Homo sapiens: one gene and its partners. The protein of the gene in region 1 purifies or fractionates together with the protein of each later gene. This does not show direct contact. Each region holds a gene or a part of one and is shown on either strand. Other genes may lie near its edges.

Evidence for each region. The genes of interacting proteins can lie anywhere in the genome.
Region 2: the proteins of PRP4K (region 1) and CDC5L purify together in Homo sapiens (affinity purification with mass spectrometry; 2 studies listed by BioGRID and IntAct, with this or other methods). This does not show direct contact.
Region 3: the proteins of PRP4K (region 1) and PRPF8 purify together in Homo sapiens (affinity purification with mass spectrometry; 4 studies listed by BioGRID and IntAct, with this or other methods). This does not show direct contact.
Region 4: the proteins of PRP4K (region 1) and RAB3GAP2 fractionate together in Homo sapiens (co-fractionation; one large-scale study listed by BioGRID). This does not show direct contact.

What each region holds. Positions count from the first base shown.
Region 1 is NC_000006.12:4,030,531-4,036,021, forward strand, and holds part of PRP4K (serine/threonine-protein kinase PRP4 homolog), read left to right. Parts: intron 1-1,028; coding exon 1,029-2,225; intron 2,226-5,491. UniProt on the Homo sapiens protein: Serine/threonine kinase involved in spliceosomal assembly as well as mitosis and signaling regulation. Connects chromatin mediated regulation of transcription and pre-mRNA splicing.
Region 2 is NC_000006.12:44,421,456-44,426,620, reverse strand, and holds part of CDC5L (cell division cycle 5-like protein), read right to left. Parts: intron 3,975-5,165; coding exon 3,812-3,974; intron 2,203-3,811; coding exon 2,038-2,202; intron 519-2,037; coding exon 438-518; intron 140-437; coding exon 1-139.
Region 3 is NC_000017.11:1,656,453-1,661,617, forward strand, and holds part of PRPF8 (pre-mRNA-processing-splicing factor 8), read right to left. Parts: coding exon 5,159-5,165; intron 4,955-5,158; coding exon 4,819-4,954; intron 4,711-4,818; coding exon 4,541-4,710; intron 4,376-4,540; coding exon 4,246-4,375; intron 4,127-4,245; coding exon 3,980-4,126; intron 3,550-3,979; coding exon 3,389-3,549; intron 3,097-3,388; coding exon 2,905-3,096; intron 2,312-2,904; coding exon 2,074-2,311; intron 1,930-2,073; coding exon 1,801-1,929; intron 310-1,800; coding exon 196-309; intron 114-195; coding exon 1-113. UniProt on the Homo sapiens protein: Plays a role in pre-mRNA splicing as core component of precatalytic, catalytic and postcatalytic spliceosomal complexes, both of the predominant U2-type spliceosome and the minor U12-type spliceosome.
Region 4 is NC_000001.11:220,268,739-220,274,656, forward strand, and holds the start of RAB3GAP2 (rab3 GTPase-activating protein non-catalytic subunit), read right to left. Parts: upstream 3,716-5,918; 5' UTR 3,600-3,715; coding exon 3,485-3,599; intron 1-3,484. UniProt on the Homo sapiens protein: Regulatory subunit of the Rab3 GTPase-activating (Rab3GAP) complex composed of RAB3GAP1 and RAB3GAP2, which has GTPase-activating protein (GAP) activity towards various Rab3 subfamily members (RAB3A, RAB3B, RAB3C and RAB3D), RAB5A and RAB43, and guanine nucleotide exchange factor (GEF) activity towards RAB18.

The DNA of each region.
Region 1 (5,491 bases):
TTGAACCAGTATTTAACTTGGGATTCTTAAACACCAAGGGCTCGACAACGTAATTTAGAATCATAAACTTTTTAACTCAGCATAAGCCAAACATTTAAGCACAGAATCCCCCACTTTATTTATTTATTTCCATAGCATCTGTTAATGTAAATGTATTTTGGGAAACTGAGTTCTCATTTGAAATTCAGAGAGATTAAATCACTTGCTGAATGAATATTGGGCTGTACTGTATTAAATTACTGATATTAGACTTGTTGACTTACAAAAGGCCCTTCCATGTGGTTCAGCCTAATGTCGTATGATTGCTTACTACAAGCCTAGAGTCCTAACTTCCGGTTTAGTTCACTTTGAAGATTCAACTTGTGAGGATGTGTTTATACTATCACCATCATCAGTATCAGCTACCAATGCACATTGATTGAGTGCTTATTTTGGGTATAGCTCAGTATTGGCTCTAGAGTTTTGTTTTGTTTTGCTTTGTTTTTAAGGTATAAGATGAAATCTGCTCAAAACAAGTGACCTGCTGGGTTTACTGTAGAGACACCAAGTTTCATGAATTTCAAGTGGAGAAGGAGATTAGTCTTCCAGTGTATGTTAATAGTTAGTAGGTCTTATTAAAAAAGAAAACGGGCCCTTTGGTTGTTAATGTGTGAGAAATGTTGGTTTAAAAATTAAGTTACTGAGTGGCTTCTTGTACTAAATCAATGTTAATGAGGTTTTGCTGTGCCTGGTTTGCTTTTCCCTTTTTCTCTAACCTGTACTTTTTAAGCTCACTCCATTAGGGATTTCCTCTAATACTTTTGGTGAGTTCAACCATTAGAAACACAATAAAGTTGTATCACTATCCAACTCAGTTCTTGCCGTAGACCTTCTTTGAAATAAAATGTCTGAAGCTGTTCTGAAAAAATTTTAGTGACTGACTTCATGTATTACATTGAGATGTATTTTCTCATTACTGTTATTTTCTTATGGCTCTTTGAATACTTGATAAATGATATGATTTTAAAATGTGTTTGATATATTTATAGGATGGAAGATGCTAATTCTGAAAAGAGTATAAATGAAGAAAATGGAGAAGTATCAGAAGACCAGTCTCAAAATAAGCACAGTCGTCACAAAAAAAAGAAGCATAAACACAGAAGTAAACATAAGAAACATAAACATTCCTCAGAAGAAGACAAGGATAAAAAACATAAACATAAGCATAAACATAAGAAACACAAAAGAAAAGAGATTATTGATGCTTCTGATAAAGAGGGTATGTCTCCAGCAAAAAGAACTAAACTTGATGATTTAGCTTTGCTAGAAGACTTGGAAAAACAGAGAGCCTTGATTAAGGCCGAACTTGATAATGAGTTAATGGAAGGAAAGGTCCAGTCTGGTATGGGGCTCATTTTGCAAGGTTATGAGTCTGGCTCTGAAGAAGAGGGGGAAATTCATGAAAAGGCAAGAAATGGAAATAGGTCTAGTACTAGATCTTCAAGTACAAAGGGGAAACTTGAACTTGTGGACAATAAAATTACTACAAAGAAACGAAGTAAAAGCAGATCCAAAGAACGGACTAGACATAGGTCTGATAAAAAGAAAAGTAAGGGGGGTATTGAAATCGTTAAAGAGAAAACAACTAGGAGCAAGTCAAAGGAGAGGAAAAAATCTAAAAGCCCATCCAAAAGAAGTAAGTCTCAAGATCAAGCAAGGAAATCAAAATCCCCTACCCTTAGAAGGCGATCTCAAGAGAAAATTGGTAAGGCCAGATCTCCTACTGATGATAAGGTTAAAATTGAAGATAAAAGTAAATCAAAAGATAGGAAAAAATCCCCAATTATAAATGAAAGTAGAAGTCGCGATCGAGGTAAAAAATCCAGATCCCCAGTTGATTTAAGAGGTAAATCCAAAGACAGAAGGTCACGGTCCAAAGAGAGAAAATCAAAACGGTCTGAAACTGATAAAGAAAAGAAGCCAATTAAATCTCCCTCTAAAGATGCTTCATCTGGGAAAGAAAATAGGTCACCCAGCAGAAGACCTGGTCGTAGTCCTAAAAGAAGAAGTTTGTCTCCAAAACCACGTGATAAATCAAGAAGAAGCAGGTCTCCACTTTTGAATGATAGAAGATCTAAGCAGAGCAAATCCCCCTCGCGGACACTGTCTCCTGGGAGAAGAGCCAAGAGCCGATCCTTAGAAAGAAAACGACGAGAACCAGAGAGGAGACGACTTTCTTCTCCAAGGTAACTTGTGTACAAAATGTTAAAGCTTTTTACCAGTGCATGAGATTTTAAACGGAAAACTAGAACTTGTGGACCATTAAAAATGAAGTAGTAAGTAAAAATAAAAATAAATGAAGTAGTAATGAGTTTCATAATTTTAAGTAACCCAATCCATTAACCATGTTAATATTTGCACTTTTTTCGATGAGTATTTTAAGTATAGGTGTTTAACAAATACTGAGCTTGATGATAGAATTGGGTTTTTTCACATTCTTGATTTAATACCTAGTTTGCTAAGGCACTCCTTTCAATCCATGTAATTTGGCTGATAAATCTTCATTGGGGGCGTTTAGAGAGAGGATTATTACTTCATGAACAGTGTAGGCTGAAACTCTTAACTTTGAAAAGGGGGAAAGGTAATCAGTTTAACAATTGTGTTCTGTTCATTCTCTTGTATTTGCATGAGTTTTAAATTTTAACAGTATAAATAGAAACCAATACCAATATTTTTTGGTCCCCAAAGTATAATTAAAATGGAAAATTTTGTATTAATACATATAATCTCATTGTTGAAAAGTAGTATCTCTTAAGCTTAAGAAGAATAGTATATGAAATTATTTTGTACTATTTGAATAATATATTGTCTTAGTTCTTATAAATCCTCATGTGATTATCTTAACTCATGAGGTGAAGGGGCTCTCATACCTAATTTATAAATGAAATAGAATCAGAGAATGTATATAATTTACGTAGGATCATAGAACGGAAGTATTTGCGGGGAGGAGTGTTTATACCACTTAAACTACTTTAGAAACAGATTTCTTAATGTCTTTTTTGTATTTAGTATTTAAGTATTATGAAATTGCCAGCTAGGTTTTGCTTATTAAAAGAGTATTGGCTTATACTATATAAGGATGTTATTAATTCCTAGCCGTTTACTGTGTTCATAATAATATTTTCTGTGAATGGGTATAAATATAAACTCACCCTGAAAGTGAAGTCATCATATTTTCAGAGAAATTTCAAATTTTATTTCCAAGTGCTGTGTCTTAAGAGCGTCTTGATTCTTTACTTCTGAGTGGCACTGTAATGAAATAGCCCCTTTTTCCTTTGGCTTCCTGGATTGAGGCAGTGATTAGTTTTACTGATTCTGTTATCTCAAGTGCTTCTTAATTATCTTGGTGGTCTTTCAGTTTGCTTTGTTTGAAGAGCAAATTCTGAGGAGTTTATTAAGGACTAGAGCTGAGTATTTGAAACAAAAATATTTTTTTAAATTACAGAAGTGATGCATACTTACTTATTAAAGAGAAATCCAAATAAGCCTGTAAATTGTCTCCCTTTTCATTTCTCCACTACCACTCCTTAGAAATTTACTTTATCTTAGGTCTTTCCTTGTACAGACAATAACATGAATATAAGGGAATTTTTTTTTTTAACAAAACTGGAGTCATATTATTCATATTCACATGTGGCTTGCTTTTTTCAGGAAACATTTCTGCGACAAAACATATAGATTGTTTTTCATTCTGCCTGACAGCAACTGGTATTTCAGTGTAGATGTATTATAGTATCATTCTCCTATTGAAACTGATGAAAAATTTAGGTTGGTTCCAGTTTTTCACTATTATATGCGAAGATGTGCCTTGGTTATATGTGAGGTTTCTTTATAGAATAGACTCATAGAAGTGGACTTGCAAAGTCTCAGAGTATGTACATTTACATTGTAGAAAGTTATTGCTAAATTTCCATCCAGGAAAGTTAGGTCAATTTCTACTTCTACTTCTATGACTATGTGAACTGCCCCTTTTCCTGAAACTGTATTAGGAAAGTTTAGGAAAACCTTTATTACCAGGATACCATATAGTATTTTGTCACTCTTAAAAACAGAACAAAAAACCCAAAAATTGTTTTAATCGAAATTTCTTAGGTGACTAGTGAGGGTGAACATTTTTATTTTCTTTATTTTTATTTATTTATTTTATTTTATTTTATTTTTTGAGATGGGGTCTTGCTCTGTTGCCAGGCTGGAGTGCAGTGGCGTGGTCTCGGCTCACTGCAACCTCTGCCTCCTGGGTTCAAGCGATTCTCCTGCCTCAGCCTCCCAAGTAGCTGGGATTACAGACACGCACCACCATGCCCAGCTAATTTTTGTATTTTTAGTAGAGACAGGGTTTCACCATGTTGGCCAGGCTGGTCTTGAACTTCTGACCTCGTGATCCGCCCACCTCGGCCTCCCAAAGTGTTGGGATTACAGGCCTGAGCCACTGTTTATTTTCATTGCATTTTAGCAGACAACACTCTGTTCTTTTTATACTAGTTTACTTTATCCCATCCATTTATATATACATATATATACACATATATGTGTGTTGTTTTTGTTTTGTTTTGTTTTGTTTTTTTGAGATGGAGTCTCGCTCTGTCGCCCAGGCTGGAGTGCAGTGGTGTGATCTTGGCTCACTGCAACCTCTGCCTCCTGGGTTCAAGCAATTCTCCTGCCTCAGCTTCCCCGAGTAGCTGGGACTACAGGTGTGCGCCACCACGCCCGGCTAATTTTTTTTTTTTTTTTTTTTTTTTTTTTTTTTTGATATTTTTAGCAGAGATGAGGTTTCCCCACGTTGGCCAGGCTGGTCTCGAACTCTTGACCTCAGGTTATCTGCCTGCCTTGGCCTCCCAAAGTGTTGGGATTACAGGCGTGAGCCACCGCACCCAGCCCATTTATATTTTTTAACTGGTCTTTTGAGGCTGTGCGTGTATGTGAGCAGATTAAATAAAAGAGTTTCCTCAGATGGCCCTATCAAGAAGTAAGCACTACCAAGAAGTAAGCACTACAGATCTGAATCAAAGTCTACCTTGCTCATTTTGGCTGGATCAGAGAAGGATTCTTGGGTTCTGTATACCGTGCTGAAACATGCAAGGCAGGTTGTGTTTTTAGGTTTTTATTAAATGAGGAAGGCAAGTTGCAGTGGCTCACGCCTGTGTTCCAGCACTTTGGGGAGGCTGAGACGGGTGGATCACCTGAGGTCAGGAGTTCGAGACTAGCTTGACCGACATGGAGAAATCCTGTCTCTACTAAAAATATAAAATTAGCTGGACGTGGTTGCTCATGCCTGTAATCCCAGCTACTCAAGGCTGAGGCGGGAGAATCTCTTGAAGCCGGGAGACAGAGGTTGCAGTGAGCCGAGGTCACACCATTGCACTACAGCCTGTGCAACAAGAGCAAAACTCCATCTCAAAAAATAATAATAATAATAAATGAGGAAAATACTGTAATATTATTTGATTATGGA
Region 2 (5,165 bases), about 40 Mb from region 1:
TTCCAGATGGTTCATAAGGGTGATGTAGAAGGTCATAATGAAGCATTGTGATCATTTCTTTTTTGATTAGTTCTTCACTTTTCTGTAAATCTGTTAAAGGCGGTTCTACATTTAAGGGTCTTAGAATAGTTTCATTTACCTAAAATTTTAAAACAAATACAATTACCAAACATATCACTATAATATATTAATGTTATTACCTGTTACAGCATGAATTAAACAGCGGTTTTACATTTTCAAAAGCAATTTCCATTTTTTTCCTTCTAAATTCTTTCTGGTACTACTGAAACATTTTAAAGATTGGATTTGAGAACTACTTTGCTATATTCCAGAAAGTAGATGAAATTTTGTTTTATAGTCTTTATGAATGATGTAAAACGCAGCAATCATATAAAAAGAAACTTAAAACTTCCTAAACCAGAAATTCTAACACTTACTTCTGATGGTCTTGGCAGATCTTTCTGGACAGCTTTATGCATTCGTTTCATTTCCTTTACACGCTCTGCATCTCGTATGGCCTAAAAAATGATTTTTATATCCTTTATTGCAGCTATAGCGTATTTGATATCTCTCAGTAAAGCTAAAAACACTTTGGTATGTAAGATCATGTGTGTTCAATAGCTAAAGTTTAGAAATCGGTTTAAGTTTGTAGAAAGGCAATGCTAAGGCAACAGAAATGAATCAGTCTATTCACTCTCATTATAATAGAAACTAAGAGCTTCCAATGTCTACTAGAGCATTCTCCAAACTTGCATGGATCCATATCACGTAACAAACTTTTCTCATCTAAATGGAAAACCTAAACTCCAAAGAGACTCCCACGACAAAACTCTTTCTTCCCTTTCACTCCAAAATTACTGACTTTTAACTCAAAAAGCCAGCCAAAAAATGTATTGTTTCCTGATTCTTATGAATAATGTGGGATAACACATTAAAATTTCATGCCATTTCTGAAGGAGTAAATGTAACTCAAAGTAGCTGAGAACTAAACACAAAAAGTATCATCCTCTGTTCCCCACTGAAAAGCACATTTACATGGGTCCCCTCTAAAATATTGTTTCCACTGATGTCATTCTCACTCCAATCCCCTGAGATTCAAGGTCCCTAAAATCATCCAGCAATGGACTGCAGCTACTGAAAGGGGTCATAAAATATCAGTTCTAGTTTAGGATTCACCACTTACCCACCATGAGACCTGAGAAAGTTGAGACCATGAGACCTCAATTCATCTGAGCTTGTTGAGTATTCCTTACTAGAAATATCTGGGCCCAGAGTATCTTGGATTTCTGATTTTTTCAGATTCTGGAACATCTGCATTATACTAACTCTAATCCAAAAAGCTTCAATGAGCATTTCTTTTGAGCTTCATGTCGGCACTCAAAAAGTTTTGAATTTTGGAGCATTTCAGGTGTTGGATTTTTGGATTAGCAATGTTCAACCTGTAATACCGATCCTATTTATATCACTGTGCTGTTACGTGCAAATGAGAAAGTAATTACGTATAAGATATATTAGTACAAAGTGTTACTAATATTATTTTGACACACTCTATCTAAATTTCCAACTCCAGTTTAGATAGAGGTCTTACTATGTTCCCCGGACTGGATTCAAACTCCTGGGCCCAAAGAATCCTCCCACCTCAGCCTCTCGAGCAGCTGAGACTACAGGCTCGTACATCGCACCACCCAGGAACCAAGATGTATTTGTTTTTAAGACTAACCAATAACATCTTTTCTTTGCTAGATTGAAGCAATGTCTAAAAGACTACCTATGTGTATTTTAGAGAAGCATAATGAATTTGACAGAATGTATTTAAATTTCCATATATATATTTTTAAGAATGCTCATCAAAATATTGTGAGTATGTTAATTATGTGAGGATACATTATTAATGACATAAGTTATTTACTTTAGAAGTTTTTTCAATATTAAAAAGGACTAGGTAGAGATCTTGGGACATTTAATGGCTATTCTTCATTCTTCCAGCCTACTGACACATTCAGCCAAACTCACGCTTCTTTCAGTACAGTTACCCACCTGCTTTCGAGCATCCACATCAGCAGCATCTTCAATGTAAGTATCATCTATTTCACGTTCTTCCAGCTCCTTCTCGGCATTTTCTGGTAGAACAATTTCAAAATCATTCTTAGGGGCAGGAAGGCCCAACAACCCTAAACGGAGATGTTCTCGGGATTCTCTTTCCTGTAGAAAAGAAGTGGTCCTTCTCAATTCATGCATATTAAACATTCCACCAGTATTTTATGAGTCTCTTAAAAATTGATAGCACAACAGGGTGACTCTAGTCAAAATAACTGTACATTTTAAAATAACTAAGAATAATTGGATGGTTTCAAACACAAAGGTTAAATGCTTGAGGGGATGAATACCCCATTTTCCACGATATGATTATTACACATGCATGCCTGTATCAAGATATCTCATGTACCCCATAAATATACACACCTACTATGTATCCACAAAAATTAAAAATTACAGAAAGAGAAAAAAAGTCTCAAAAAAAATCAGCCTAATATTAATTCTAGAAAAATAATCCTGACTTCAGAGCTAAGACAAGTCTTATGTTTATTTTCTATCCCCCCTTCTTCCCAACATTAAGACCAACCAAAAACTTTCACTTGTGATCACTGAAGATACTCTGGGATATTCCAACAGGAGGTCTGAGGCCAGGGCAGAAAAAAAGACCACTTTGAGGGAACACATTTCTGACACCGAAAGTTAACAGCAAATGAAAAGAACAGGTTCAAAAGTTAGTTTGTCCTTGGACTAATAAAATCCACTCTAAAAGATACTTGAATTTGTATGTATGTGTTTATTTTTAATGGAAATACTAAATCCCATGCAGAAGAAAGAAAGTAGAGTCCTGGTTCCCAAAAAAGCCTCCTGGTACCCAGAGTTTTCCCATCCATCCTCAGTGCTTACATGTACCAGGTGTGAGGAACAGATGAGTTGCTATATCTAAAACATCCTCCATGCTTACTCATATTGTAGTCTCCATCTGAGACAGCCCCCACCCTCCTTCAGAACATAGCTCCTCTAATAAGGCTTTCCTGTTACCCAACAAATGTGACTATTCCCTTCTTTAACTACCCTAAGCACACTGGTTTTACTCAAAGGGCTTATTCTGTTCTGATATTGCAATTATTTTTGGACTTAGTTTAGTACTGTCAATCTCCCCAGAATATAAATTTCCTTAGGACAAAGGACATCTTTATTCAACTTTAGATCCCCTCAAATGTCCAAATGCATGCTCTGCATGCATGAGGTTCTTAATCTATTTAATTCTTATGTATCCATTCAGAGTTGGCTTTAGTTGATATCAATTTGAACTTTAAAAAACATATATAAATCAACCAAATATATACATGAGGTTAGAATTAATTTTAAACTGAAGACAAGCCAGTATCATTAGAAGTTTTTTTTTTAATTTCACAATGATTTCTGTGGCATTAGATAATAAGGCCCAATAGCAAAGTAATAAACGCAGTAACACGGGCAGAAGCAAAACTTAACTTTTTACAGTTAGCTTTCTACCTCAGCTTGCTAAAGAAAACTTCAGTGAAATCAACAACGAACATCAATATTCACAAACCTAGTAAGCATAAAGAAAGGTGGGTTTTGAGCCCAAAATATTCCCTTTCATCAAGTCTTACAAATAATTCTTTTTCTGGCATCCACAGGTGTATAGATTCTTAAGGTATATGTGATATGCACTAACAGGAGAAATTTTAATTTGGCATCCATGAGATATTAAAAAAAAATTTAAGAGTATTAAAAGGGAATTGACATTTACCATCTGCTTCACGTAAGAGGGATCACTATAGTCTGCCATTCCATCCTCGGGATTAATGTTTAACTTGTCTCGAAGAGGAGTTCTACCCGGAGTAGAGTTAATAACTGGTTTGGGAGTTGTTCCACTCCGGGGAGTCAGCCCTTCAGCTCCATTAGAAGGAGTCCTAGAAAGACAGGAATCCCAATTAACAGAAGTGCCACTTACATTTGGATTGTGCTTTCAAATGTTTTTCACATAAATTATTTCACAGGAAATATAGAAAAAAAAAAGAATAAAGATTTCAAAATTCTGTCCAGCTGGTTTTGTTAGGATCTCTAGGTTAAAATCAATGTTTGGTCTAGCTAGCATGGTATTTTTATTTTACTGACTTACAATAATCACTACATTTGATATTTTCTTGCCTTCCTAAACTACGTCCACTAAACATTATTTCAACCTTTTCTTGGCACATTAGGGCGACTAAGAACATGCAGTGGGCAGGGAGGTGGGCCACCACACTCAATGACCCCAGATGACTCTTTGAGTTTTGTGTATATTTGTCTCCTCCCTCCCTATCAAGCTGTTGGTTCTCACATCACTATCACTGTCATTATTACAAATGTACACACTTTATTAAATAGTTCCTCCTTTTACATTTTGTTTGGAAACCAAACACCACACTTTTGAAATCACATCTAAACATGAGTAAGTTCCTGAGTGAGGCCTAAGAGATTCTCCTAGGAATAAGATCCACAGATTTTGCAGCAACCTATATTTTAATTATTCAAAGTCTTTTTTTTTCCTGGTTGCCTATTTCCTGTATATTGGTGTGTTGCAGAACGGTGATGCTGCCAGACAGCTATTCCTGATAGGTAAGGTGTTATCACATAAGACATGGTTCCCACCCCCAAGGATTTTACAATCTAGGTGAGAGACAAGACATACAGTTGTCCCTAAGTATCCACCGGGGATTGGTTCCAGGACCAATACTCAACTCCCTGCAGATACTCAACTCCCTGATATAAAACGGCATCGTATTTGCATATAACGTATGCACATCCTCCCATGTACTTTAAATCATCTCTAGGTTACTTATAATACCTAATACAATGTAAATGCTATATAAATAGTTGGTACATTGTATTTTTATTTGTGTTATTTGTTATTGTTGTACTGTTTGAGTTTTTTGGAATATTTTTTATCCACAGTTGGTTGAATTCACAGATGTGGAATCCTCAGATACAGAGAGCCGACTAAACATAGGAAATGAGGGATTATGCTCTCTTACAAGACTCTCAAGAAGTGTTAAATGTTTAAGACTGGCTGCCAATGCTTCTTGGTTCTGCTGTCATGATATGTGTAATAGCCTGAAGTG
Region 3 (5,165 bases), on another chromosome or scaffold:
TCAGTGGCTTTAAGGATGAGATCCCCGAATTTTTCCACCTTGAGACACGCCTGGAAAGGGAGTTGGAGCTCCGATCCTTTGATGACAATATTGGGGAAGTCCAGTAAGTGCACCTAAGACAAGATCAAGTCCAAGATGAGAAACAGCCTGAAGGTCTCAAGGTCTCTTTTCTCCTACCCCACCCCACCCTCTTACCTCCAGTGGGTCCAGCATGCCCTTCCTGGTGACAATGATCTGCTTGGGCTGCTCCTCCACAGGCAGAGATCGGATCAGGGCGGCCACCTCCTCAGCTGTCTTCCACTTAGCCAACTTAAAAGCAAGAGAGAAGAAAATGGAAATTTAGTCTCTACCCTCCCAGATCAACTAGAACAGAATATCCTAGTTTTGAAATAATCCAACTACGTTTCTATTGAACACTGATGTTAAATGTTAGGCACTTAGAAGGTACAAAGAGTATCAAATGGCCGTGTCCAATGACCAGGCTGACAGCCCCTTTCAACAAGACAATACCACAAGCTGACACATGAGTATGTGCTAAACTATACACTGTTTTACAGAGTTCAGGAACAAAAGAAATTAAGGCTACTAGGATCAGAAAAAAGCTGCACAAAAAAACGTGTCTTAAGGAGGGACTGTGATTAACAGAGCAAAGAGGGGAGTTCATTCTAGAAAGAAAAATACAAGCAAAACACAGATTTGGAGATGAGCATCAGGGGTTTGGGCTACTAAGATCCTGGACTGAATGTAAGATGAAACATGCTATAAATGTAAAGGAAGAGAAACTGGCTGGACAGATACAGCCCAGCCAGATGTTGAACGTCTAGGAAGCTAAAGAAGAGTTAATTCAGCAAGAGTTGTGAGGTAGAGAAGAGATTTGGTCAAAGTGGATGTTTCAAGAATATGCGTTGCTGGGCCGGGCACGGTGGCTCAAGCCTGTAATCCCAGCACTTTGAGAGGCCAAGGCGGGCGGATCACGAGGTCAGGAGATTGAGACCATCCTGGCCAACATGGTGAAACCCCGTCTCTACTAAAAATACAAAAAATTTAGCCGGGCGTGGTGGCGGGCACCTGTAGTCCCAGCTACTCGGGAGGCTGAGGCAGGAGAATGGCGTGAACCTGGGAGGCGGAGCTTGCAGTGAGCTGAAATCAGGCCACTGCATTCCAGCCTGGGCAACAGAGCAAGACTCCGTCTCAAAAAAAAAAAAAAAAAAAGAGAATATGCATTGCTGGCCAGGAGCAGTGGCTCACACCTGTAATCCGAGCACTTTGGGAGGCAGAGGCAGAGGCAGGCAGATCACAAAGTCAGGAGATCGAGACCATCCTGGCTAACACGTTGAAACCCTGTCTCTACTAAAAAATACAAAAAAAATTAGCCAGGCGTGGTGGCGGGCGCCTGTAGTCCCAGCTACTCGGGAGGCTAAGGCAGGAGAATGGCGTGAACCCGGGAGGCGGAGCTTGCAGTGAACCGAGATTGAGCCACTGTGCTCCAGCCTGGGCCACACAGCGAGACTCCGGCTAAAAAAAAAAAAAAAAAAAAAGAGTATGCGTTGCCTTTGGAAAAATGATTTTTGATAGCCCTGTTCAAGGTTAGAAATTCAGGAAACAGACCAGCTGGAAGGGAACGAAGCACCTCATACACTCTTGGACCTCCCACAGAATACTTCCCAAGGTATTTTGGGGATAAGTTCAAATGAGATGTTCTCAGCCTTTCATCTAATAAACCAGTAAATATTACCAAGTCCACCCCAAGAATAAGAGGCAACATGGTTCTACAGCCTCTTCATCTTTAAACCTGCTCACCTGCCCCAAACGCTTCTGTCCCGCCCACACGGACGTGTGGATTATCTTGAGGAACAGCTGCCCTGTGCGTGGGTTGAAGATGAAGATGGCTCCGTTGATGGGCTTGGTTGTCAAGTTCCCTTCAAAGGTCTAGAGGAGGACGGCATTCGTTAGCATGGCCTACACAACACATCCCCATCCTGCCTTCTTCCCAGCATGTGTACACACTTAGCCCATTACTCTCCCACAGCCATGTACAGAGTCCCGCACCTATACACTGCTGCTAACACTCACCTTGTGAATAGTCACTCTGTAGACGTTGGTGTCATCCACAAACCAGATAATCTGGTTGGAGAAGAGCTCACCATAGTTCTGAGAAGACAAATAAGGCTCAGTGGGTTCAGATGAATAGAGCTGTAGCCCCTTGCGGATCCGTTCACGTAACACATACAGGGCAGGGTTTGCCTTCATGATCTTGGCCATGGCCTGTTGTATGAGAGGCTTGCTGCCTGGGAACCAGTTTCCATAGGCACTGTGAGGATAAAAGGGTCAAGAAAAGTTAAGACGAGAATGACAGCCCCAGAAACAAGACAAGCTGCCAACTCTACAGAGGAAGAAAGACTGTTCGCCAGGCTGACAACACTCTGCTCATGTGTACATACAGGCTGGAGAAGAGAATCAGTGACCCATAGGAGGAATGGGCCACTTCCTCTCACTTAGGTAAAGTAAAAAAGTATGACTACGTTAAAGTATGGAGCTAATGGAAAATACACGGATTATTTATTTATTTATTATTATTATTATTTTTCTTTGAGATGGAGTCTCACTCTGTCGCCCAGGCTGGAGTGCAGTGGCGCAATCTCGGTTCACTGCAAGCTCCGCCTCCCGGGTTCAAGTAATTCTCCCACCTCAACCTTCTGAGTAGCTGGGACTACAGGCGTGGACCACCACGCCCAGCTAATTTTTTGTATTTTGGTAGAGACAGGGTTTCACCATGTTGCCCAGACTGGTCTCAAACTCCTGAGCTCAGACAATCTGCCCACCGCGGCCTCCCAAAGTGCTGGGATTACAGGTGTGAGCCACTGCGCCTGGCCTGAAAATACATGGTCCTGAGCCTCAACTCACCTGTGCAAGTTATAGGCCAGGTCAATGGCGATGAGTACACCTGTGGGCGAAGGGTAGATACTCATGTTGTCGGTGGTGTAGTCCAGGAACTTGGCCCGGGCGTAGCGCTCAATGTCGTGGGAATCATAGTCCCCCCAGCGCAACTGGATGTCAATCCAGTATTTCTGGGTGGTGGTGCTGTCCATCACATCCCTGAGGATGAAGAGGGTTCAAGCTTCTAAGAAACCATGGGCATAACCAATGTCCCCAGAACCAGAACCACTTAAATCCCAAAACCATCCCACCCACTCCACCAACTTGTTCCAGGTCAGCAGGACCCCAGAGAATCAGCAGATCTGACTAAGGGTGTTGACAGGCTCCAAGCGTAGCACTGGCTCCAAGTTTGAAACAAAGGCAGACAGGACAATTCCTAAAGTTGCAGGGCTAGAAGAACAGGAAAACGAAAGTGTCCTGGCTGCCTAGGGCTGGGTCCTGAGGCACTTACTTGGAGTCAGCCAGCAATGAGGGCCGGGAGACATTCCACTTATAGGAGGCAAAGAGCAGGATATCTGCACAGGAAGAGTTCATCTTATATGACTTTCGGGGATGGATTGTCTCCTTTTGTACTGTCTCAATTTCCAGTGCATCAAGTTCCTGGTCAAACACCTGAAGGAAAACATGGAGAGATTAAGACTTGTTAAGGAAGCCCAATTAAAATCAGAGTTTGTACAATAAGATAATGAGGCAATAGGAGTCTCATCCTCAGAGCTTCCAGGGTGGATTTCCCATATGCAAAAGAGCAAGCTGAGCTGACTCTGTACAGCACGCTCTCCCCGCGATTCCACCTGAGCTGACTCTGTACAGCACCCTCTCCCCGCGATTCCACCTAAGCTGACTCTGTACAGCACCCTCTCCCTGCGATTCCACCTGAGCTGACTCTCTACAGTACCCTCTCCCCACGATTCCACCTGAGCTGACTCTGTACAGTACCCTCTCCCCTCGATTCCACCTGAGCTGACTCTGTACAGTACCCTCTCCCCTCAATTCCACCTGAGCTGACTCTCTACAGTACCCTCTCCCCTCGATTCCAGCCCACCTGACATAAGTCCATAACAATGCTCTCATGGATCTTCTGCCACAAGTGAGCTCGGAAGATCTGGATGAGAGAGATCTTCAGCGTGGGGATCTTGCCGTGCATGAAGATACCCGTCAGGTCTAGCTGCACCTGAAAGCCTACATATACCTGCCAGGAAAACGACAATGTGACATTAGAGATCAAGAGACTCGGGCGCTCACGACATAACCAAGGCAAGAAGCAGCAACTGTCTTTAGCTTCCCCTCTCCAGTGTCAATCACACTCACATTGGCTCGATTAATGGTCGGGGACCACCAGAGGGTGAATCTACGATTGGGAATCTGGTTCAGTCCTGATCGCTGAGCATTAGTTAGCTTCTTCCACTTCATAGATTCCTCAAAGCCACTGGCCTTCTCCCTGGGGAGCAAGAGAAGCAGGTGAGGTGATATCCTGCCATTTCCCAGCACACTGCTAACCTCCTGGAGGTGGCTGTCTGGGAAACACCACAGGAAATCACAGAGGCATACAAGAGATGAGCTCAAAGGGTTGTGACAGGTCCCTCTAAGAGAGGAGAATCCTCACCAGAAAAGCCCCTCCCAGGTAGGGAAGTAAGTGCCCTTAAAGAGTGTGTGTTCCAGAATGCCTTCCACACCGCCCAGGGCCTGGATCATGTCTGTACGGTAGTTGTTCAGGTTCCAGAGCTTCCCATCATGCCGCTGGTGTGTCCACCAGAACGGATTCTGCTTCAAAACCTAGATGGCAAGGCAGGCACGGTCAAGCTTCTGGGTGCCTATTGCCCCAAGTTTCGGGGATAGCCATGGATTTTCCTGACTCAGGGAAAATCTGCTCCCTCTACATACCTGATACTGCTTAAAGTCAGTTCTGACACGCCAGCCCTTATCATAAGCCAGTGTGTGCCGGTCCTTCTGGAAGAGGGTATTGATTCGAGGAATGCCACGATCCCATGAATCTTCTAGGTCTTCTAAAGTCAGGCGTCTTCCAAAAAAAGAAAGATTCAAGTCAAAACGTGATCTCATATGAGGAGCTCAGCACTCCTTCCTGGCCAAAAATAATTAGGGTCAGTAGAACCAGCCTTCTCACCTCCATACAACCATGGCATGCTCTGACCCTGAACTCCACACGGTTCAAAGGCCACCACTGCCCCTGCCCCAGGGTTGGCATGCCCTCCTAGGTGCCCACCTGTTCT
Region 4 (5,918 bases), on another chromosome or scaffold:
CATTAAACCATATTTATAAATCTATAGGTATAGTGCAAATTAATCTAGATGTTTGGGGTGTATTTATATCCCCAACTGCCTATGTAACTTGGACAAGTATTCAATCTGTATGTACCTGAGTTTTAGCACCTATAACTGTGCCATACTATATTATAGGCATTAGCCACTTTGGCTACTTAAATTTAAATTAATTAAAATTAACTTGAATTTTAAAAATTCAGTTCCTCAGTTGCACTGGCCACATTTCACAGGCTCAATAACCACATGTGCCTAGAGGTTACCATACTGGACAGTAGAAATATAATGATGAAAATAAACAGGATGATATGATTGAGAACAACAAGTAGGAACAAGGGGGTTGTATTGACTACTTTAGATCTAGATCAGGTGGTCAGAAAAGGCTGCCCTGAGTTGACATTTGAGCTGAGACTTGAATGACAAGATGCAACTAGCATGCAAAGATCTGCAAAAAGCATCCAAGGCATAGACAACAGTGAGGGCAAAAACCTTAGCCACAAATGTGGTTGGCTGGTTTAACAACAAAAAAGAGCGTCTGAAGCATAAGAAATAAGGGGAGAGGTGTATAAGGTCCAAGAAATGGCAGGAAGCAGAGTCTCAAGGGCCTTATACACCATTTAAGAACTTTGGATTTTACGTTAAGTGCAATCAAAAACCATTGAGTGTTATTAAAAGGGCAATGTTAGGCTGGGTGTGGTGGCTCATGACTGTAATCCCAGCACTTTGGGAGGCCAAGGCAGGTGGATCGCAAGGTCAGGAGTTCAAGACCAGCCTGGCCAACATAGTGAAACCCCATCTCTACTAAAAATACAAACATTAGCCGGGCATGGTGGCGCATGCCTGTAGTCCCAGCTACTCAGGAGGCTGAGGCAGAAGAATTACTTGAACCCAGGAGGTGGAGGTTGTAGTAAGCTGAGATCATGCCACTGCACTCCAGCTTGGGCAACAGAGTGAGACTTCATCTCAAAAAAAAAGGCAATGTTGTGATCTAAATTATGCCTTAAAAGCTCACTGTAACTACTGTTGAGAATTATTACAGGAAACCAAGAGCAAAAGCAGGAAGAATTGCTAGAAGAAGACACATATCATATCATAGCCCAGGTTGAGAAAAGATGGTGGCCTGGACCAGGAGAGTGGTAGAAGGATAAAGAAAATCTGTTCCTTTTTTCTACATTCCCTATCTACAATCCTGCATCTGCTATCCTTCACAGCCAAGCTCCTTGAAATAGTATATTTCACTTTTTAACCCCTTATCCTATAACTATGCTTTCTGCCTCCACTATCCTACTGAAACTGTCCTAAGGTCCAAGTTACCTCCACCTTCTCAAAACCAATAAGCATTTTTCTATCCTTTTCTTACCTGACCCCTGCTGCATTTGCAAAACTGCTGACCATTCCTCACCCTCATCAAGTTCTCGCCTTCCTCAGCTCCGAGGGCCTTACTCTCACATGATTTTCCTCTTTCTTTTACTCCTTCTCAGTCTTCTTCCCAGTAACCTCTACTTGACTTTTAAACACCAGTGCTCCTCTAAGCTTACAGCTTTAGTACTCAGTGCATTTCACAACATACATAATCCTTGAGACTGAACTGACACTTTTTGCTGTTAGCTCCCCAATTAACATCTCTGGCCCAGTACTCCCTACTGTTTAGACTATCTATATCTGGTGTTCAACCAGATGTCCTTACTTGGACATACCATAAACATTTAAAATGCAAAAGGTTGAAAATCTGTATCCTTCATTCTCTTATTACATATAGTTGCCCAAACCACAAGCCAAAGACTTCCTAAACTCCCCCTCACTTACTAGTTACAATGCCCATCACCAGACCTTCACAAGGTCCTGCAGATTCTAACTCCTTAACGTCTTTCTAATCTAGTCCTTCATCTTCATCCTACTAAGGTTCTTAATTCAAGCTCACATAATTTCTTGCTTGGATTACTGGAAGAGCTTCCCAATCCATTTCCCTTCTTCCAATCTCTCCTCCACTTTGCTACCAGAGCACATTACAGGTCTTCAACAAATGTTGTTGATTACATTAAGTACAAATCTGACAATGTCATTTCTCTACTTAAACTTTCAGAGAAACGCCACAATTTTCACAAGGCCTCTCATGGTCTAGCTCCTTATTACTACTACTGCCTCATTGCCCCAACTCTTCCTCTCCCATCCTCCTCTCCAGCCATTCAGCTTTTCTTAGTTCTCTAAATACCATGCCATTTCAGGCCTCCCTTCCTCTGCACATGCTATTACTGCTCCTTTACTCCTCTAACTAGTACTTCAAAGGTAGGCTTAAGTATCACCACTTCAAGAAAATGCCTCATGTATATCTCAGTCACACTGAATGGAAGTTAATGATTTGTCTGTAAACCAGAAGTTCCTACAGCAGGGTCCACCAACCTTATTTGGTTTGTAGCACCAATGACTGGCACAAAGTATGCAATCATTCACAGATGGGTTCGATTTGATATCTTCTAAATTTTCTAAAAAAGGGAGAGGAGCTTAGTGGGCTTTATATCACCATTCCGGTATAGCACAAAGTGAGAGCGCTGTACTACAAAGCCAAATGTGCTTCAGGTTGGAAATGCAAAAATAAAATAAAATAAAATAAAATAAAATAAAACACAAGGCACACCCTTTCAAAATGAAATGTACGAAATTCTGAAAGCCTATATAGTATCTAATAAACCAGCCTTGGAACTTTATACTACTTGGGGAAAGGCTTATTAAACACTTTGATGATAAAAATAGGTGGAAGGCTTCAATAAAGCAAATTAACCTTTCTTGGCTATGTCACTGTAATTTTAGTTCCTAATGTAGATTCTCGTTCACTTCCTGACAGGTTATTTTCCTTCTTTGAGAGAGTCTTACCTCAAGAGTCACTCATTTGTCAGCCATTTGTTCTCAAAATCTGAATGGGGGAAATGCAGATGAAAGAAGGGAGAGTGTGGGGGGATGATCAACACTTTCGGAATGGGAGGTAGCAGAAGGCCACAGTCTCCGGGATGGAAGAGAGTGGGAGCTGGGGCAATACCAGAGTGGAGCGCTGACATGTGGCAAGGAACGGGGAGGATGCGATCACGGAGCAGGCAACATGAAACAGGGAACGACCCCAGGCTGAAGATGGGAGACGGAGAAGATACTCAGAGAGAAAGCTAGGAATGTGTGGGGGTGGGGGGAGGGAGGGAGAAAGCGGTGATAGGCAGAGGCGAGAGGAAACAAGACGCAGTTTTTAGCCAGGGGTCAGAGGGCCTAAGGAGAAAAGCTGGGTCGAGAGGAAGACAACACAAATGGGGCTTCAGGACGAGGTGGGCAGGGTGTCATCCCGGAGCGGAGGGGAGGCACGGGGAGAACTGGGGGTCCAGAGGGCAGAGGCAGGAGGCGCAGAGCGAGTAGGAGACTCGAACCCGTGAGCAGAGGCCGCGGGTGACGAGGGAAGGAAGGGCGAGGCCAGAGAGGCACTTACTGGGGTCCCTCCGCAAGGCGCCGCTGAGGATCTCCTCCCGCAGGTGAGGAAAGAGGAAGTCCCGGGCGGCCTGGAGGTCCTGGAAGTAGCAGAACTGGACAATGGAGCAGGCCATGGCTCCAGGGAACCCCACTACGGCACTCACCTTACCTCACCACGCCCTGCCCCCTCCACCCCACTGCGGCCGCCACCGAGCCCCAATAGCTCTAGCCAAGCAGAAGGCGGAGAAACCAAACCGGAAGCTGTCACTGACACGGGTCCGCTGTCTCCGAGTACTGCGCAGGCGCAGGCTGGCCCAGGCGCCTAGGGCGCGGGGGCCCGGGTCACGTGACTACGGCGCCGCCGCTGCAGGTGGAGCCAAAGTCGACGTGGAGGCTTGGGGCAGATTTTTCAGTCCCAGTTGTGTGTCTACGCCGAGGCATGAACCCTTTCATTCATTCTGGCTTTTAGCCAGAGGTGTTCTAATTGGACTTGTCCGCGCAGCCCTTTGACTTATTCAGTCTTATTGGTCCCCTACTATTGGCACGATCCTGATGTTTCACAGAAACTAATTCGTTTTAAACTAGTGGCAGGCCAGTGGGGGACCGTATCCTGCAAGAGTCGGATTTTGAAAAGATTAATTGCTCTTCCGGAGATTAGCCCCGTCAAGGCTGGCTTTAAATGCTCCTACTATAGATTCCCATAGTACTACGCAAGCCCAATATAGTACGTGTTATAGTGTATTATACACTTTTGTTTTCATTATTCATTTGGTTTTTCATTCATGCATTCATCCATCCATTCAACAAATATTTGTTAGTCTTTTAAATGCCAGCCACGCAGGGTGCTGAGCATTAGAGAACAAAAGAGAAGAAGTACCTTTTCCCAGAAAGCTGGAATTCTAGTGACTGATACAGGCAGTAAGCAATTAATTACAGTATTTCCCTTTAATCCAAGGGGATATGTTTTAAGATCCCCAGTGGATGACTCAAACCATGGATAGTACTGAAACCTATGTATGTGTATTATGTTTTTACCTATACATATATATGATAAAGTTAAATTTATAAATTAGGCACAGTGAAAGATTAACAATAACTAATAATTAAATTGAATAATTATGTGGAAAATGAACCCATGGATAAAGGGGGGACTACTGTACTTAACTATTTAACTGAAATTGTGATCATGCTAGTAAGTGCTTCATAAATATTTGCTGAAGAAATAAATGGAATGCATACATAAAGTAAATAGAATAACTTGTTTCTTTGACAAAGCACTATTTTTGAAAGTACTTTACATTGTTCATTTGGATAGTCACAAATGCCATCTAAAAATAGTGTGTCTTATCCCATTTTTAAAATAAAGAAATTGAGCTGTCTCTGAGCAGACTTTAAGTTATTTTTCCAAAAAATAAAAACAAAAAAAATTATTTTAATGTGAGCACAAAGGCCTGTAGGCACTTACACATTTCCTAAAGGAAACCTAAAGAGGCCATCCACTTTGTATGAAAAAAGGGCACAGGAACAAATGAAAGGCAAGTGGATGGGGTCCAGAGCATTCATTTCTGTCAGGCCCGTGGACATACACACTTAGTCCTAATAATATAACAACTATAATTTAGTGCCCAGGTTCCTACTCCATTATTTCCTACTTCTAGAGTAGGATGATTTTCACAAAATAGGATAGGCAATTTCTATGTTATCAGGTTAACAGGAATCAGTTCTTCACCTATAAAAGGCAGTTGAATCAGATGTGCTGTAAGGTCCCTTTAAGCATCAGGGACCTATACTTCTGTAATCAAAGCTTTCAGAAAAAGCAAGCTGCCAGTGCTCCCTTCTTCCATCTGAAGAAATGCAGTGTTTCCTCAGATCATCACTAACTAGAATAATCCAGCCCTGATAAGATTATTCCCTAAAATCCAGCACCAATCCCAAACTAAACCAAAATTTAAATTTAGATTCTTAGTGTTACTGGACGAATAACAAACACATGACACTTTCTGGAAGGAGACTGTCATTCCTTGAAAACCATTCAAGTTCCTATTCAGGTAAATGCATTTTGTGGAAGTAACTGCTGTTGGCTGATTTTGCTGGCCTTTGTTCTTCCCTGAGGCATTCATATGTCTCCTGTGGTGGTCATTGAATTTCATTACTGTGTTGGCTCAGTTTTAATGGTGAAGTCCCTGACTTCCTTCCAAGTACTGTTGAAAAGGATCATTCATGGATGTTTTTAAGGACTTTAGATACCCTTCACAGAAATTACAACACATTCATGAACTGAACTCTTCCCCCAGGAAGTTGTAATGCAACAGGGGGGGATGCCTCTGGAGTTCTGCTACCATGGTTTCTGCGGCATGTGGGAGGATTGCATCAGACAGTGAATATCACTTATTCCACAGTCATAAGAAAGCACATTGCAAAAATGTGCAGGCCTTACATATCCCAGCATTGAC